Homo sapiens: one gene and its partners. The protein of the gene in region 1 interacts with the protein of each later gene in a pairwise test. Each region holds a gene or a part of one and is shown on either strand. Other genes may lie near its edges. The genes, in order: ABI3, DESI1 and EVL.

The links.
Region 2: the proteins of ABI3 (region 1) and DESI1 interact in binary tests that used the Homo sapiens proteins (3 or more experiments, as listed by UniProt).
Region 3: the proteins of ABI3 (region 1) and EVL interact in binary tests that used the Homo sapiens proteins (3 or more experiments, as listed by UniProt).

Annotation. Positions count from the first base shown.
Region 1 is NC_000017.11:49,213,707-49,217,306, reverse strand, and holds part of ABI3 (ABI gene family member 3), read right to left. Parts: intron 777-3,600; coding exon 609-776; intron 1-608. UniProt on the Homo sapiens protein: May inhibit tumor metastasis. In vitro, reduces cell motility.
Region 2 is NC_000022.11:41,618,992-41,622,814, forward strand, and holds the start of DESI1 (desumoylating isopeptidase 1), read right to left. Parts: upstream 2,053-3,823; 5' UTR 1,849-2,052; coding exon 1,761-1,848; intron 1-1,760. Other genes in the region: XRCC6 (X-ray repair cross-complementing protein 6), read left to right, coding at 3,014-3,095. UniProt on the Homo sapiens protein: Protease which deconjugates SUMO1, SUMO2 and SUMO3 from some substrate proteins. Has isopeptidase but not SUMO-processing activity. Desumoylates ZBTB46. Collaborates with UBQLN4 in the export of ubiquitinated proteins from the nucleus to the cytoplasm.
Region 3 is NC_000014.9:100,068,311-100,072,133, forward strand, and holds part of EVL (ena/VASP-like protein), read left to right. Parts: intron 1-3,823. UniProt on the Homo sapiens protein: Ena/VASP proteins are actin-associated proteins involved in a range of processes dependent on cytoskeleton remodeling and cell polarity such as axon guidance and lamellipodial and filopodial dynamics in migrating cells.

The DNA of each region.
Region 1 (3,600 bases):
CTACAGTTCGAAAGGGTGGGAACTCTGGTCTGCGGCGGGGGAGGAAAAGACACACCCCACCCACTGAACATGTGGGTGATGTACAGGCCAGGCCAAATGTGTGGCTGGGTCTGTGCATGTGCTTTATGGGGCAATTCCTCGGTCAAGGATCCAGGAAGGAAGGAGGAGGGTGTGTGCGCTAGAACACTGTGGCGGGGTGGAGGGTGTATACTGTATAGTGGTGGCTGTGCTTCCAGGGCTGAAGATGACCTTGTCAAGCTAGCACCCTGGGTCTGGGATATTTATGAGGGCACTGCTTGTATTTAGATGCAAACAGGGTTCATTTGCTTCTTTCCTGTATAGGGCGCTGCTGTGATTGGTAGATAACACTTTCTCATGTCCAGGATATAATTCCGAGAAAGAAAAAGCTCTGCCTTCGGGGAATTTGTAGCGTAGCCACAGAGATAAGGAGGTCCAAAAAGCTTGGGAAGTGCCAACCTTCTGCTGTAGAGTTGGGCATTTGGACATGGAGGAAAGCAGGAAGGAACTTTTGATGTAGAAAATGTCTGAGTCGGGCTGAAGAGTTGAGGCCTGACACAAGATGCCTTCCCACGCCCCACGCCCCTTACCTGGCCCAGCGTGCTTACACGGGCTTCCACCTGCCGCAGGGCGGCCCCCTGCAGGTCCAACATGCGCAGAGTGTGCCCGGCCAGGTTGCCCACCTGGTAGGCCACGCTGGCCAGTGCCTGGGTAGTGAAGGCCATGGTCTCCTCCAGCGCCTTCCGCTTGTCTGTGGCCTGAAATACACACAGCCCTGGCCTAAGGGCCAGCATCTTCCACTGGGTCCTTGGCTGGCTGGGGTGGGATGGGAGAGGATATAGGGAAAGTAGGGGCTGGATTGGGAGAGAGCAGCAACCCTTAGATGTTTGAGGTGGCTCCCAGCAGAATGATGTAGCAAGAGGAACTTGCTACAACATCACTTTAAATTCACTTTAAAAAAGTGAATCTGCAGCCTTGGGGAATGGATGCAAAGGGAGGGAAAGATACCCATTCTCAAATAGTTAAGCTGAGGACTGAGTACAGATGATAGTACAACCCTCCTGAAGACTTCAGTAACAGGCTGTCCTTTTAGGGGTTGGAGTGGGGGTGAATAGTAGAAAGGAAAGAGGAAGGCAACACTGGCTAGAGCAGACATTCTTTTTTTTTTTTTTTTTCTGAGATGGAGTTTCACTCTTGTTGCCCAGGCTGGAGTGCAGTGGTGCGATCTCGGCTCACCACAACCTCCGCCTTCCGAGTTCAAGCGATTCTCCTGCCTCAGCCTCCCAAGTAGTTGGGATTACAAGCATGTGCCACCACGCCCAGCTTATTTTGTAATTTTTTTTTTTTAGTAGAGACAGGGTTTCTCCATGTTAGTCAGGCTGGTCTCAAACTCCCGACCTCAGGTGATTTGCCTGCCTCAGCCTCCCAAACTGCTGGGATTACAGGCGTGAGCCACCGTGCCCAGCCGACATTTTTAAACACAACAAACCATGTCAGGCACGGTGGCTTACACCTGTAATCCCACTACTTTGGGAGGCCCAGGCGGGCAAATCACTTGAGGTCGGGAGTTTGAGACCAGCCTGGCTACAATGGCAAAACCTCGTCTCTACTAAAAATACAAAAATTAGCCAGGCATGGTGGTGCCTGCCTGTAATCCCAGCTACTCAGGAGGCTGAGGCATGAGAATCACTTGAACCCGGGAGGCGGAGGTTGCAGTGAGCCAAAATCACATCACTGCACTCCAGCCTGCGTGACAGAGTGAGACCCTGTCTCAAAATCAAACCAAAAAAAAAAGCTTTCCATGTGACTGTTTAGCTCCAGTCTGCAGATTGGTGTCTGGGAACTCAAATAAGGAAACTGAGGCCCAGAACAGAGGGACTTTATTCATTCATTCCCTCTAATAGCTTTCCAATACCCTGAGGATAAAATTCAAGCTTCTAACCGTGGCCTACGTACAGCCCCTCCAGGTCTGGCTCCTGCCTTTCTCTTCACCTTCATCCCCTTTAATCCAACTTCACCACTCCCCCTCTCACACACTCCCCTTCAGCCACATTGGCCATTGGGCTTCTGTTCCTGAACAAGCTGAACTGTTTCTGCCTCGGGGCCTTGGCATGTGCTGTACTTATTTTCAGAATCCTTATTAGCAGGCCTCAGCTTCTCAGAGACACCTTCCTTCACCACACTAAGATTTCCCCCAGCCCACGCCTTCACTGCCTCTTTATCATATTTACCTTGTTCTCTTTTCTTCATGGTATTTAGCAGTATCAAACATTCTCTATGTATTTTTTTCGTTATCTACGCCCCCTTGCCTTAAACGGAAGTGTCATGAGAGCAGGGAGCTTGTCTGTTTCATCCTGTATCCCGTCATGGAATCACACCCAACACGCAAAAGATTCTTCATAAATATGCACTCGTGAGTTAATTAGCAGGTCGAATGGGAACCCAAACATTCTCTGGGCACATTCCCACTGTATTCTAGGCACTGTGCCAGGCACTGGCCAGGGTCACACTGCCAGTCAGTGCAGGAGGAGTAAGCAGGCAGTGGCTGAAGGCAAGAAGTTTTTTTTGTTTGTTTTTCGAGACAGAGTTTTGCTCTTGTTGCCCAGGCTGGAGTGCAATGGCACAATCTCAGCTCACCCCAACCTCCGCCTCCTGGGTTCAAGCGATTCTCCTGCCTCAGCCTTCCGAGTAGCTGGGATTACAGGCATGCACCGCCACGCCCAGCTAATTTTTTGTATTTTTAGTAGAGATGCGGTTTCTCCATGCTGGTCAGGCTGATCTTCAACTCCTGACCTCAGGTGATCTGCCTGCCTTGGCCTCCCAAAGTGCTGGGATTACAGGCGTGAGCCACTGCGCCTGGCCAAGAAATTTTTTTTTGTTGGTCCCAGATCAGGCAGTGGGGGCTAGGGCAAAACTTCTCCGGTCTTTTGGTTCCCCGGGCAGCTTCCTCATCTCTGGTCGGGTCATGGAGTTGCCATACTCTAGCCTGTACCTTTCTAAGGCAGGTAGGGGGCAAGTCCAGGGTGAATGTGGAGTAGGGCCAGTGGGCCAACAGGCAAGGCTGCACACTGGGGTCCCCTTGCTTGAGCCCTCGGGTGCCCCTCAGGGCCTGTCAATGGAGAACAGACCTACAAACTCTCAGAGCAAGGTCTGAGACACCTGGGAGCCTCTAATGGAGCCTGAGCCAGAACCTTCTGGGCAGCCCATGCGATGGCTCTCTCCTCCTTGTCTTTCTTTTCCAACAGCAGGAAAGAGATGCTCATTTGCATGTCATTTACATCTCATTAGCATATGCACCAAAACTTACATCTCCTCAGCATAGGTCACCAAGAAGATTGAATAGGCAAAGAAATCAACCCAGGATATTAACACCAGACAGGAGAGCAGATTTTGATTTAGTTCAGGACCTTCCTTTACTAAATGAGGAAACAGGCCCAGAACTGAGCAGTGACTGCTCCTTCATCTCCACCCAGATTTCTTAGCTTGCCTGCCTTCTTCTGTACAGTTTCCTCCCCAAACGAACATGTGGAATTGTTGGCCCAAACAGGAAAAGTGTCTGCTTGGGCCCAGCTCTGGGCATCT
Region 2 (3,823 bases), on another chromosome or scaffold:
AGGCGGAGCTTGCAGTGAGCCTAGATCGTGCCACTGCACTCCAGCATGGGTGACAGAGCGAGACTCCGTCTCAAAAAAAAAAACCAACAAAAAAAAAACACTTGACTGATGTAATCTATTAATGAGTAACAGCTTCCTCAGTGACTTTGTAAGTTTTGCTTTCAGATGTGCCTCAATCATTTTAACAACTGGTTATCTAGGCCCAAATCCCTGTCAAATAATGGGTTGGCTACATAAGAATTAGCTGATAAGCTCATTAAAAATACAGATTTTTGGACCAAAACTCCAGGAGATTCTGATTTAGTATTTGTGAAGCCTTAGAATCCATATAATTAAAATTTTCTCATTTTAAATAGATATTATGTGTATGTAATACACAGGTCCAGAGGTAAGAAACAGTTTACAGCAAAGTTTCTCTTCTACCCCTGTTCCCCTGGCATCAAGTTCCCCTTTCCATAAGCTACTGCTGTTATCAATTTCTTGTGTATCCTTACGGATAATTATTTGCCTAAGCAAGCACATATATATCCTTTGATTTGCATATTTAAAGAGCTATTCTAACCTTGTTTTTTCTAATCTCATTTACAATATATGTTGGAAATGAGGGTATCTGCATTTTTAACAAGCACCCTAGATGATTTTGATGTGAAGCCAAATATAGAAACAACTCATGGACCCACGGTTGTGAGATTAAGTTCAATTCACTACGACATATTAGAAACTCAAGGACATTGAAGGATGCCCTCAAAAGTAGCCTCCCTTACTTGATCTCTGCCCCCTCGTCTCACAGAGATGAACTAAATCATTCGCCAGTGTCTCCACAGAAGCCAGGAAAAACTAGCCATTCAAATGGATGCTGTCAAAGCTTCAATTTTCAATAATTGGAATTCTTTCCTGCTCATTGTTACCCGAAATTACAAACCTGACAATTCCTGTGTTACACAAGACATTCCTGTATTTAAGTTGAAATAAGGTGTGATCGTCACTGAATGAGGGCTGGTTTTTCTCCTGCCAGTTAAGTAGTTTAATGGAGCACAACCGAAATACTTTCTTTACTAATCCTTATTCACACAGCCTCATCCAAACTTCCCCCAAAACTGCTTTCTTGCCATTTGAGCAAAAGCAATTAACTTAGAAACTGTGGGGAGAAGACTGCTTGGTGAATTCTGGAGTTCGGGGCTCCTCTTATCCTGACTTGACCTACCTGGGGGCGATGGCTGGGTCCCTAGGCAGCTCTATCTCCCCCATCCCACCTATCCCTGGGACTGCAAAGGGAGCTTCCTTTTGGCACTGAGACAAGGTTCTCCGAGAGCCACCCGACCTCCGCAGTGTCTCTGTCACCACGAGGGGCACCGCGCGGCAGGCATCCTCACCTTTCCTACACCGCGCCAAGGAGGCAGGAGTGCACTGGGCTACCCGAGCGAGGCAGAGAACCCGCCGGGATCCAGCGCTGGTTTACCCCACACCCTCGTCGAAGGGGCTCTCGAGGGCTCGGTTTCTGCCCAAGCCCCCTGCAAGGTGGAGGCATGACTCCTCCATCCCTTCCCCTTGAATTCAAACGTGAGGATGGTATCTGCGAGGCTAAAGCGGGGCTCAGATGGCCCAAACTTCAGACCACTCTCTTCTCCACTCGGCTTTTCTTCCATCCTCCTGGCCATGTGTCTCCCCGTGAGTCGTGGCCCAAGTCTCCCCACCTCGGCCAGCCGCCACCCTCTGGCCTGGCTCCCGCCCTCCTGCCCACCTGGCCCCTTCCCCCTCACCCAGCATGATGGGGCTGAGCCGCCGGGCCAGGCCTTTGGACAGGTCGTACACGTAGAGCTTCACCGGATAGAGATTCGGCGGCTCCATTGGGACCCGTGGCGACGGCGGCCACGACGGCCCTCGGGCACCCGGCAGCGGCTTGGACCTTCCCGTACCCGACGGGAGTGCGAAGCGGAGGGAGAGGGGGGGACCGAGCCCGGGCCCGGGCTGAGGGGTGGGGGAGAGGCCGCCCTGCGCTGCTCGCGCCCCCACACCCGCTACCGGCAACGACTACTGTGAGGTGACAGAGAGGGGACAGGGAGGGCCCACACGGAAGAGGGGGCGGGGGCAGGGATGCACTTTTGCGCATGTGCTTACAGTCCTGACGTAGGAAGGGGCGGGGCTTTGCCGAAGGGGGCGGGGCTCTCGCTGATGGGTTGGCTTTCGTCAGGGACATAGGTAGAAGCTGGTTGGGGAGTGTGCGTGCCAGCCTGACGCGATATAGTGCGCACATGCGTGATGACGTAGAGGGCGTTGATTGGGACCGAGTACAGGGCCCGCGCATGCGTGGATTGTCGTCTTCTGTCCAAGTTGGTCGCTTCCCTGCGCCAAAGGTAAGCGGGCCGTTATCCATTTGTGTTGTTCGCCAGCTAGGCCTGGCCTCGTCCCGCTTCGCTCGGTCGGTCTCGCGCGCCCCCATAGCCTTGCTAGAGGGTTAGCGTTAGCCTTAAGTGTGCGAATCCGAGGAGCAGCGACAGACTCGAGACCACGCTCCTTCCTCGGGAAGGAGGCGGCACCTCGCGTTTGAGGCCCGCCTGCGTTTGAGGCCCGCCTGCGCTTGCGGCCCGCCTGCGCTTGAGGCCTGTCTGCGTTTGAGATCTCATTGGGCGTGATTGAGGAATTTGGGGAGGTTTTTGGGCGGTATTGAGGACGAGGGGGTCCGTTAGTCAGCATAGAATCCTGGAGCGGGAATCCCTCACCGTCTAAATGGCGTCGGGGGCGGGACCTCCGGGATCTGGCTTCCGCGGGCCGCCGCCGGCCCTGAAACGTGAGGGATAGCTGAGATGAGGCAGCTACTGGGATGGCCCCCATGCGCATTTACATGCAGTCCGACTGCCGAGCTTTCGAGGCAGCAGGATTTACCGTCCACATTCCTCACTACTAACCAAGCTTTTAGAACAGATCTCACAAGAACCTAGAGGTCGGTATTTTTTCGATTTAAATTTGCCTGTTACTGACGTTAACGTCTTTCGCCTAGTGAGCAGTAGCCAACATGTCAGGGTGGGAGTCATATTACAAAACCGAGGGCGATGAAGAAGCAGAGGAAGAACAAGAAGAGAACCTTGAAGCAAGTGGTAAGTGACTTCAGCATGTAGTGCCATTCGGTGTGTGGAAGAAAGACCTTCCCTGCCTATCTCTGCTGGATGGACTTTGCTGTTTGATGGCCTGCCCTTCTCCTCCCAGATAATTCTGAAATTCTTTTCTTCCTTTGAACTTCGCAGAGCTACCCTAGGCTCTTATATGCAGATCTTACTCTAGTGTGCCCTAAGTTTTTTTTGGACACTGGTAGTTTGACATCTTTTGGTCCCTGATAAATGGCCATGACCATAGGTATTTTTTGTCATCTTAAGTGGTTCAGGTGAGACCCTTCTCATCCAGGAAAGTAGTGTTACCATTCCAGGACCTCAGTGTAAAAATGCCCCCACCCTGCAATAACTACACCAACCAAAGAATAAACGCAAGCAACACAGTTACAGGAAAGTGATTGATTCCCTCACTATAGCCTCCACGTTTGGGAGTGTATGTGCAGGCAACACAGTAACACATAAAACAAAGGAAGAGAAATAGGGGTACATGTAATCTTCATACTGGTTAATTTAACTCCTGAGCAGAAAAATTTTGAATATTTTTATTAAAAATGAGAAACGGCCAGGCGCGGTGTCTCAAGCCTGTAATCCCAGCACTTTGGGAGGCCGAGGCGGGCGGATCACGATGTCAGGAGATCAAGACCATCCTGGTTAACACGGTGAAACCCCGTCTGTACTAAAAAAAAAATACAAAAAATTAGCCGGGCGTGGTGGCG
Region 3 (3,823 bases), on another chromosome or scaffold:
TGAAGAAGGAAGAGTGAAGGCAAATAAGGGCACAGAAGGCTTTATCAGGCCCAACGGCAAAGCCTGCGAGCTGTGCTGAATTTAGCGCGTATGTCAGAATTTAGTTAGGGGAAGCCTTTGGAGGGAGGGTTTGAAGCAAAGGGAAAGACATCTCATAGAAGCTTAAGAAAATCACTCTGGGCCCTGTGTGGATAATGGCTGGCAGTGTGGCAAGAATGGAGGCAGGATGACCTCTTGGGAGGCTACCGCAGTCATCCAGGTAAGAGGTGAGGGTGGTTTGGGCCAGCAGTGGAGCAGTCAGGGTAGGCGGTGAGAAGTCACCAGATTCAGGAAGTGCCGTGGTGCTGTAGCCTCCAGGACTATCTGGTGGATCACACATGGGCGTGGGGGAAACATGAGTCAGACATGGCTTAGGTGGGTGGTGATTCCTTTCACCACGCTGGGGCAGCTGGGGTGCTAGCTGGAAGAATCTGTAGAGGTGTGGGCCTAGCAGCACAGGTTCCCAGGAAATGTGGGTTGAACAAGGCTGACCTGAGCAGGAAGTAGCTGAGGTCGCGGTGCAGCAGCAGGAAACGTGATATGGATGTGTGATATGTCTGCCACTTTTGGGGCCAGCCAGTTAATTTCGTTTCCTTCCCTGGTCTCTCTGTTGTCTTTGGTAGGCTGTGGGTTTTTCCGAAGCACGTACTATCTTCTAACGTATTATAGAACTTACTTGTTCTACTGTATACTGTCTTTACCCCTCAAGAATGTAAACTCCCAGAAGGCAGGGATTTTCGCCTATTTTGTTCAGTGGTGTATCCCCAGTGCCTAAAACATTGCCTGGCAATACACATTTATTGAACTGCTGGATTTAATTAACTACTTTGATATATGGTCCTAAAGATTCCTGTGCTACCAAAGTTGCTACTCAGTGGAGCTTCCTGGTGTGGCATGTTAGAGAAGAGACCAGAAAAACAGACATTTCACTTGCTGTCAGGTAGTGAAGGAGCTGTGGCTGCTTGGGCACAGTCATTACTGTTTATTCCACTGTGCTGCACATCTTGAAGCTGTAAAGATATAAGAAGTCTCGCACAGCCGGGGTTCAGCTTACAATCCTTCGCACCTAATTGTACGCCTTTGTGTGAGGGTTTGGAGGAGTCTCCAGGAACACCTGGTGTTTCCTTTCTCACAGGTATTTCCAGTCCTCACGGGCAAGTCAGAGAGTCCCAGAGGCAATTGAACAAGCCCTCAGAGATCACGTAGTCCGTTCACTCTCCATGGGAACCCGCACTTCCCTAGAGACCTGTAGCCAAATCATTTGGAGAGCTTCTGAAGCTTCTCTGCCTTCCTCTGTCTCAAAGAATCCCATGTGCCTCTAGTTGAGAAACATTCCTCTGGAGATTCTAGGTTATTCTCATGAGAATGTTACGATACTCAGGTGGGCTGGGGCAGAAAATGGATGAGAACTAGTGTAGTCCAATGGCTTTGCTTTGGTAACTGAACCCACAGAGGAGGAAAATAACAACAGCTCAGCTTTTCTCAGTGTTATACACCAACCATTACGCTAGTTACATGATATACATACTATTTAATTCTCATCCTTTGAGGTCTGGTATCACTATTGCCACTTTACAGATAAGAAAACAAGGGTTGGCCGGGTATGGTGGCTCACTCCTGTAATCCCAACACTTTGAGAGGCCAACGCAGGTAGATCACCTGAGCTGAGGAGTTCAAGACCAGCCTAGGCATCATAGTAAGACCTCCTCTCTTAAAAAAAAAAAAAAAAAGAAAGAAAGAAAATAAAATTAAAAAATGAAAATTAGCCAGATGTGATAGTGCATGCCTGAAGCCTATAGTCCCAACTTCTCAGGAGGCTGAGGTGGGAGGATTGCTTGAGCCCAGCAGTTCAAGCCTGCAGTGAGCTGTGATCACACTACTGCACTCCACCCTGGTGACAGAGCAAGACCCTACCTCAAAAAGAAAAGAAAACAAGGGCCTACAAAGTATCGTATTCCAGGTCACATTGTTGTCACTTGACGGAGCTTTTGATCTCTGAGAGGATCAAAATCTGCCCTCTCAGCTTTAACTTCTCAAAGCTAAACTTGTCCCAATTTGCAGAGTCAAGGGTAGAATCGAGGCCCTCCTGATCTCTATTTTGCAGTCTCCGTCATTCTGTGCTGTTAATACCACAAGAGACAAAAGAGACCTCGTCTGTCCTGTAGCACCCCGTGCCTGCGTGCGTATCTCTTGTCGATGCTCTGTCGGCTCAGGATCTCTCCTACCAGCCTAGAGCTCTTTCAGAGCAGGACGCTTGTGTTATGCATTCATGTTTGTCCCTGTGCCTAGTAAATAGCACAGAGTCCAAGTGGCTACTTGTGTCTTCAGGGGTGTTTGTAAGGGCAGAGCCGGGGTCTTCATTCCCAGGCTGTTGATTCATCCTTGGAGCTGAACATACTGTCCCAATCCTTGGCCCAAGCCAGGCCTCTACAGTTGTCCCAAGGCTGTGCTAAAACCTGTTCCACTTCACAAGTGATCAGAGTCACAGACTCTGGGGACACAAATTTTGAGATGAAGACACAGAGCAAAATATATAAATGTTTTTGAGGTTTGAGTAGCCTTAACGTCCACGTGGCTGTCAGATGGCTCCCCAAAGAAAGGGCTACGCCGGTGGCCTTGAAAGAGTATGGGAGATGCATATGAGACAGGGTCAGTCTAGGAATGTCAGACTCCCCCAACAGTTGGTTGGAGTGTTTTTCCAGATTGCACCAGACTTCACAGAGTAATGGAGACCAGCTGTCCAGGCATCTGAGAGGGTGACATCCAAGGAGAAAAGGCAAACGTCTTGATTGCCCATGATGTGGGCAACCAATTTGGATAGAAAAGAAGGTGTCAGGGTTTAACACTGAATGTAGACTTTATTTACCCAAAGCCTTTCTTTAATTCTAACACTCTCAAAAATGGGGCTCAGTCACCATTTGGGTTTCCCATGTTAATATGCAGAGAGCTAATTCATTGTCTTTCATTGCTGTAATGCAGCAGTTCTCAAAATGTACTCCAGAGATTGACCCTCCTAGGAGTCTGTAGATCAGAACTGTATTTATAATATTACTAAGACATCATTTGCCATTTCAGCTCTTGTCTCATGAATTCATGGTGGAATTTTCCAGAGCTATGTGATGTTTTGACATCATCACTGTGGCAGCTAATGAAATGTCTGCTTGTATATTCTTGTGTTTTAAAAAATTATTAGTTTTAATTTCAAATAAGGTGAATATGGATAGACTTAACCTACATAAAACAGAAGCTTTTTGGCATCCTCAATAATTGAGTGTAAAGGGGTTCTCTTGACCAAAAAAGTTTGAGAACTATGTGTGTAAAATAGTCAGTTGTATGGCTGCACTACAGACAGCAAGCATGGAATTGAAAATACCACCTGCAAGGTGGCGGTTCCCCCTGGTAGAGAGGAGGGGCTCTGGGTCTGGGAGGAGGATGCAGGCGTCACTTGAACTAAACAGCTTTATGACTTGCTGTCAGATTTCCTAGACTGTGTGGTGGGATCGTGGGAACCTACTTCTCACAGGCCTGAAGTACTTCACAATAAACATTTTAAGTCTACTTCATAGCATGAAACCTGTTTCACACCTGTGCCCATTAAGAAAAAAAAATGGCACCCTATAAATGATTTAATAATTACTAAGGGGAAAATATAGCTTTCCATTGGAGATCTGGCAGTCACCTCTTAACCAACCTACAGTCTACATTCAGTTGGCCTGAATTCTTCACACACACAACATCTTTATCAATGAAAAATTTTTAAATAGTTTCACATCCTAGCTTAGCT